Homo sapiens: one gene and its partner. The protein of the gene in region 1 purifies or fractionates together with the protein of each later gene. This does not show direct contact. Each region holds a gene or a part of one and is shown in the gene's direction. Other genes may lie near its edges. The genes, in order: TRPC1 and MX1.

Region 1 (3,825 bases):
CCACAGAAGGTGGGGCTCCTGAGAACTCACAACAGGAACCAAGGAGAGGCATGGCCATCACAATGGGCAGACTTTGAGGATGTGGTCTGAGAAGCCTCTGCGGGCTGGCTGGGGTACATACATGTGACCTCTGTGTGCAGCCTGGGCTTCCTCACAGCATGGTGGCTTCAGAGTGGCTTTTTACATGGTAGTTCATGGCTCCAAGAGCAGGTGTTCCAGTGAGCAAGGTGGAAGATGCGTAGCCTTTTAGGACCTACCTTCAGAAGTCACATAGCATCACCTCTGTTAGAATCTACTAGTTAAATCAATCACAAGCCTGTTGAATTGAAGAGTAGGAAATTTTGACTTCCTCCTTCCCCACCTCTTGATGATGGGAAGAAAGCGTGTCCATCTTTCACTGCAGACTTAGAACATTTCTAGTTAAACTTTTTATTCCAAATACATAGTTAACATTACTGCAAATTAAATTGTCATTGTATAGAGGGATAGCAAGGACAGTAATCAGTCCTGAGATTGCTTTGATATTTGGAGGAAAGGTGACACTACTAAATTTGAGATTTACTAAACCTGGTCATTGGTGAGAGGAAAAGCTGTTTCTCTCCCAGGCATTTCACCTTGAGGGACAAATTAAGATTTCCCAAGAACATTGGAATCTGAGCAGAAGAGTAAAGAATGAAGTATTGCCAAAAATAAGTATTTGCATATAACATACACACATCTTCCCATATACTTTAAAGTATCTTTCAATTACTTATAACACCTAATACAGTGCCTACACATCATTTCATTCATGTGGATTCAACATAGTACTTGCTGTGAAGAATATTCAAGTTTTGCTTATTTGGAACTTTGTGAATTTTTTCTTCCAAATATTGTTGATCCATGGTTGGTTTAATCCACAGATGTAGGACACAGAGATACAGAGGGCCAACTCTACAGTATACTAGAAATTTTCTTGAAAGCACAATAAACAACAAAACTCTGTCCAATTCTTTTTTTCACTACAGTGTTAATTCTACAAATTATATTCTGTTTTGGGATAAATCATTTTAAAACAGAAGGTTGACCAAATATTATTGTGGATTACCTGAATAATGTCATTTTATAATAATTTCAAACCTGATCACATGAGTATATATAGAATTATCAGGACCCTTAAGTTATACTTCACAACATGAGCATTATATTGGAAAAATATTGCCTATGAAATTTGTCAACTAAGAAGATTTGTAAACTTTGGTAAATTAGTTTCTGTACCTGAACTAAAATTTTTCTCATATTTGGGAATATTTTTCCTTTCTTCTCACATGAAATTCAGTTTTAATCAGGCTTAAGAGTGTCTTTAATACCTTTTAAGAAATCCGCAGTGCTTTCTTGGAGCAAGAATAGGTCTAATATTTAGCTTTTTATTGTTTTTGCTATCTTGACTTCTTGGCTTCTGGTAACTAAAATCAATAGTTTCTCTAGACTGAAGATGTCCAACATTAGTTAGTGGTATCTTTTTCTATGGATTGTGCATGATAACTTTGAAATTTCATAAATATTATTATGAGTTTTTATATATTAAACATGAAAAAATGGCTAAGTAAGCTAATAATAATAGTTAATACTTATAGAGTGCATGCTATGAACCAGGCGCTATTCTGAGGGCTTTACCTTTAATCTTCACAACTTTATTAGTAGATACTATTATTATTCCCATTTTACAGATGGGGAAGTTGAGGCTTAGAGAAATTTAAAAACTTGTTAAAGGTCATTTACCAAGTAGCAGAGCCCAGATTTGAATCTAGGTAATCTGGCTCCATAGTCTATCCTCTTAACCTCTACATGCTTTTATTGTTAGAAAAAGGGAAAAAACAAAACTATGTTGAATGTATAGAATTGATTTTTAAACTCTTATTCAGTAAACTTTGAATATCAACCAATCAGTATTTAAAGGTTTCCTTTTACTTTTTTTCTTTTTAATGTGTGTGTATGTCCTTTTCAGTTTGTCTCCCAGTCTAACTGCCAGCAGTTCCTGAACACTGTTTGGTTTGGACAGATGTCGGGTTACCGACGCAAGCCCACCTGTAAGAAGATAATGACTGTTTTGACAGTAGGCATCTTTTGGCCAGTTTTGTCACTTTGTTATTTGATAGCTCCCAAATCTCAGTTTGGCAGAATCATTCACACACCTTTTATGAAATTTATCATTCATGGAGCATCATATTTCACATTTCTGCTGTTGCTTAATCTATACTCTCTTGTCTACAATGAGGATAAGAAAAACACAATGGGGCCAGCCCTTGAAAGAATAGACTATCTTCTTATTCTGTGGATTATTGGTAAGTATCAAGTTAGTTTGAAAGGTTTTGTCTTTATTTAGCCCACTGATTCTTTCTTGATTGATGGCATTGTGAATATTGGGTTCAATTTGCAATTTTACACTGTTCACACCACAAGAATTTGAACACTTCCATGATCACTGAAGACTTAACTAACATGTCTGTAAAGATAAATGTTCCTGAACTTGATGATAAGGAAGCATCTCTCTTATTTAATATTTCTTAAATACATGGAATTTTAAAATTATTTATTCTCAGACTCTATGGTTATTCATGATTGTAAAACAGAAAATCAGCTTTAACACATGAATGCTTTTTTGGTGTAAGAATATGAAGTTTTCTTAGGTATTTTGAAACAATCTATTTTATACTGTTGTGCATTTTTAAAGTTAACTATTCTATTTCATTTATAACATTAGTTTTCCTTTTAAGAACCTATGAGCTTTTTGGTTTTTGTTTTGTTTTGTTTTGTTTTGTTTGAGACAGAGTCTCGCTCTGTCGCCCAGGCTGGAGTGCAATGGCACAGTCTTGGCTTACTGCAACCTCCGCCTCCCGGGTTCAAACGATTCTCCTGCCTTAGCCTCCCAGTAGCTGGGATTACAGGTGCGTGCCACCACACCTGGCTAATTTTTGTATTTTTAGTAGAGATGGGGTTTCACTTCATTGGCCAGGCTGGTCTCGAACTCCTGACTTCGTAATCCTCCTGCCTCAGCCTCCCAAAGTGCTGGGATTATAGGCCTGAGCCACCGTGCCCGGCCTAGAACCTATGAACTTTTGCAGATATATCTTGCTTTATCTCTATTTTGGAAACATTGTTTAAATTTAGATTTAAAGGAGTCCCTGGTGACTCATTCCATAAATCATTTCTTTGTAGAGATAGCCAGATCTCTTTAGAAATGATAGTTTTTTAAAAAGTATAAGACATTTTATTCCTGAAAATTATTTTTATAAGTATTACACTGTATAATAAATGTCTTAAATCATCTTCTACAATTTTTACTCGTCTTGCCTTCTGTGTGTCGGGGTGCGTGTGGAGAGTTGAGGTAGAATCACATTATCTGTTTATGGTATTTTAAAGATATTTTCTTTATTTCCCTCTGTATCTTCTACCTTGTTTTTAACCTCAGCACTTCCCATCTGTCCGTCTACTATTTGCTATAGAGTAAAAGGGTAATAAAATTTAGTCTTATCTATGGCACAAAGTACTGAGTGTATTTATCTTTTGATTACTACATTCCTGATTGTTTCAATTATTTAGTACTTTCATAAGTTATTTCACAATGTTCAATTTTAGCTCTTTAGCTATACAAATACTTTTTATATTTTAGAATGTTTATTTGAAAATCAGTTAATTTCAGGTAACTAGATTGTAATTAGAGTTTTGCTTTTAACAGTATTTAATCTATGATGCATTAATGTTTAAAATTAGGTAGATAAAATAATACACATCTAAACTCTAGGTTAAAGAGAATTAAATAATTCCTTCTTGTTAATATTTTTA
Region 2 (3,825 bases), on another chromosome or scaffold:
AGAAAATTGAATCTGCTCCAAATATGCTTTTATCCATGACTCGCAGAGAGGAGAAGATGCTTTCAGAGTATTCACCATCATGAGATCCGTTTATCCTAAGCTCTGTTTGGGTTTGATTTTCCCTGTCTCTTTTCTAGCCCAGAATGCCATCGCCGGGGAAGGAATGGGAATCAGTCATGAGCTAATCACCCTGGAGATCAGCTCCCGAGATGTCCCGGATCTGACTCTAATAGACCTTCCTGGCATAACCAGAGTGGCTGTGGGCAATCAGCCTGCTGACATTGGGTATAAGGTCAGACTTCAGACCCATTCTGACCTTGGCCGTGGCGTGGGGATGGGGGAGTGGAGGGGTGGGAGGAGAAAGAGGGTACTGTATTAGAGTAACCGTGAGTCCAGAGCTGAGTTTTGGAGTTAGTATTTGGAGGTGTGAGTGGGGAATTTAGAGAGCCCGTTGGTCACAGTCTGTTCTGTCAAGTTGAATGGAAGCTTCTTTGGAGAAAGTGAGGCCAGTGGGCACAGTTGGAAATGTGTTCTGTGTATTTGTTTTATGTTTTATGCAATGACTTGTTTTTGGTTATATACATTTTGCAGCATATCTAAAGTGCTGTGTATTAGGAAGGGGTCTTATGTGGGAAGAGAGCATTAAAAATAAGTATAATGGGCCACACACAGTGGCTCAGTCCTATAATCCCAGCACTTTGGGAGGCTGAGGCAGGAGGATTCCTTGAGCCCAAGAGTTTGACAGAAACCTGAGCAACATAGTGAGACCCCCTTCTCTATAAAAGAAAGGTTAAAAAATTAGCCAGGTATGGTGGCGTGCACCTGTCAGCTACTAGGAGGATTGCTTGAACCAGGGAGGCTGTGATGAGCCGTGATTGTGCCACTGCACTCCAGCCTGGGCAACAGAGCAAGAATCTGTCTCAAAACAAAAAACAAAACAAAACAAGCAAGAAAGAAATAGGTATAATGATATTTTAGTATCAGTGAATCTCACTTTACAGATTAAAGATTTAGGGGTGAAGTGGGGTTTTTTGGCCACCATTTTTCATTGTGACCATCAGATCTGAGGTCTTAGGGGTTAATTATCTGAAACTTCATGGTTTTCCCTGAGCCTATAGCTCTGCTTCTGCCACAGATAATTTATTTTCTCATAATTCCAGCTTGGTACCTCCAGGGTTGTGTTTGTGGGTTCATTTCTCCAAAGTTACTTCTTTTGGGGGAAATACCCCTGGGACTCTTAGGGCCTAAAGCAAGTGCAAGGTCAGGACTTGTCTCACCTCTCACTTGCCTTTGCCATACTCACGAGTCACCTCCTCTCATTTCCTTACAGATCAAGACACTCATCAAGAAGTACATCCAGAGGCAGGAGACAATCAGCCTGGTGGTGGTCCCCAGTAATGTGGACATCGCCACCACAGAGGCTCTCAGCATGGCCCAGGAGGTGGACCCCGAGGGAGACAGGACCATCGGTGAGAGTGGGGGAGCCCCACTGTGCTCAGTGAGAATGGGGGAGCCCGCCTGTGCTCGGTGAGAATGGGGGAGCCCACCTGTGCTCGGTGAGAATGGGGGAGCCCGCCTGTGCTCGGTGAGAATGGGGGAGCCCGCCTGTGCTCGGTGGTCTGCCAGTGGGCAAGCGTCCCTCCAGTCTCCATGGGCTTTGCTCAGTGGGGACCTGCCTCCACTAAGACCTGCTAAGGGAGCAGGTTTGGTGCCCACCAAGGCCAAGTGAAATGAGCTGCTTTTGACTCTCACTGGCTAGGTTGCCTTGTAAGCCTTATCTACTTGCTCAGAAAGGCACAGTGGGCTCGGAAGCAGGTCAAACTCAGGAGGCACATGGTACTCATTAAGAATGCATTTGAGATGGGATGTCCATAACTCAAGGGATAAACAAAACGTGGCGTGTTCTACAGTGGACCCGGGTGAAGGAGCTTGGGGAGAGCCACATGCTGTTCTGGGAGGCATCCCTGCCTTCACGCGGCTTGTCGTGGAGTTCTTTTCTGGAGCGGGGCTCCACTGCCCCCATGGTTCTGCAGGGGCTATGGCCTGTCCTCAAGCAAGGATGGGAGGAAACCCTGGGAGGCCGGGGGCGTGAGCAGTTGTTCGTTCACCTCTGCCTCGTGACTGAGCACGTTCTCTCCCCAAATACATCTGGCTCGCAGGAATCTTGACGAAGCCTGATCTGGTGGACAAAGGAACTGAAGACAAGGTTGTGGACGTGGTGCGGAACCTCGTGTTCCACCTGAAGAAGGGTTACATGATTGTCAAGTGCCGGGGCCAGCAGGAGATCCAGGACCAGCTGAGCCTGTCCGAAGCCCTGCAGAGAGAGAAGATCTTCTTTGAGAACCACCCATATTTCAGGTGCGCTTGCCTGGGTTTCATCATGGATCAGTCCAAGCCCAGGATGTCAGGCCTTCCAGGGGACAGTGGCAGCCGTCCCACAGATGTGTGGAGTGTGTGTGTGTGTGTGTGCGTGTGTGTGTGTGCGCGTGTGTGTGTGACTATGCTTGTTCCCCAACAAGGACTATGGAATTCACCTAGAAGAATAGGAAGGGGATTACAAAATACTGCCAAGAAAAAAAAAACTAAAAACCAATCAAAATAGGGAGAGAACAATGTACAATAATTTACGTAGCATGGTGCTGGAACCATATTTTATAAAAACATAAATAGAAGAGAATAGGAAAAAAGTAGAAAGCCCAGAAATAGACCTAGATATATATATTTGACACATGATAAATGCAGCATTTCAAATCAAATAGTGGACTATATCAGCTTGAGTATCTATTAGTGGTGTTAGGATAATTAATATTTGGGAAAAAACTAAAATACTGCCCTTACTTATCTCATTATACCAAAATAGTTAAAGTTTAAAGTTAAATATTAAGAGGAAGCAATAAGCATCTCAGAAGAAAGGTAGGTGAATAGTTTATAAGATTTTTCTATCCCTCCTACCAAAAGTGACATTTTTTAAAAGGAAAAGACTGACAAATTGGTAAGATTTAAAATGATGAGACTATGTAGAGTTGTAAACATTCTTACATTCAGTTCTCCCAGAAGCCTACAGAGAGCCATTACTCAGAATTCCAGGAATATCAAATGGAAACTTACATCCTGTTCTGCACATTCACAATTGCCAGAAGATGAGATGATTCAGTGTCCATTGATGGATGGATGCAGAAAGCAATGTGGTCTGTACAAAAACATGGAATACTTTCAGCCTTAGAAAGGAAAGACATTCTGACACATGCTACAACATGGATGAAGCTTGGGAACATTCTACTAAGTGAAAGAACCCAGTCGTAAGAGGACGGATACTGTCTGATTCCACTTAGCTGAGGTCCCTGGAGTAGTCAGATTCATAGAGACAGAAAGAATGATGGGCACCAGGGGCTGGGAGAGAGAGAATGGGCAGGTAGTGTTTAATGGGGCCATTGTTTCAGTTTGGGAATATGAAAAGTTCTGAAGACAGACAGTGGTGATGGTTGCATAATAGTGTGAATGTACTTAATGCCACTCAAGTGTACTCTTAAAGATGGTTAAATGGTCAATTTTATATGTAGTTTACCACAATTTAGAAAAATTGACAGAGAAACTGAAGCTTAGGTATGAGTATACTCACAAAAAGGCACAGAAACTCATGCTTCACTGCTGCCTTTATCCTAAAATGTCCTATAAAATGTGGGAAACCCTGTAATAACTCACTCTGTGAGCACAAATTTGGATCGAGTGAGAAGATACTTGACTTCCTTCCTCCAGGCAGCCCATGGTTTAAGTTTTTATCTTGGACAAGATATCTTGTGTCTCTTCTCCTCAGTGTTCTGCTAC

Evidence for each region.
Region 2: the proteins of TRPC1 (region 1) and MX1 purify together in Homo sapiens (co-immunoprecipitation; one study listed by IntAct). This does not show direct contact.

What each region holds. Positions count from the first base shown.
Region 1 is NC_000003.12:142,782,717-142,786,541, forward strand, and holds part of TRPC1 (short transient receptor potential channel 1), read left to right. Parts: intron 1-1,987; coding exon 1,988-2,324; intron 2,325-3,825. UniProt on the Homo sapiens protein: Forms a receptor-activated non-selective calcium permeant cation channel. Forms a heteromeric ion channel with TRPC4 or TRPC5 that has reduced calcium permeability compared to the homomeric TRPC4 or TRPC5 channel.
Region 2 is NC_000021.9:41,439,557-41,443,381, forward strand, and holds part of MX1 (interferon-induced GTP-binding protein Mx1), read left to right. Parts: intron 1-137; coding exon 138-292; intron 293-1,330; coding exon 1,331-1,469; intron 1,470-2,159; coding exon 2,160-2,358; intron 2,359-3,825.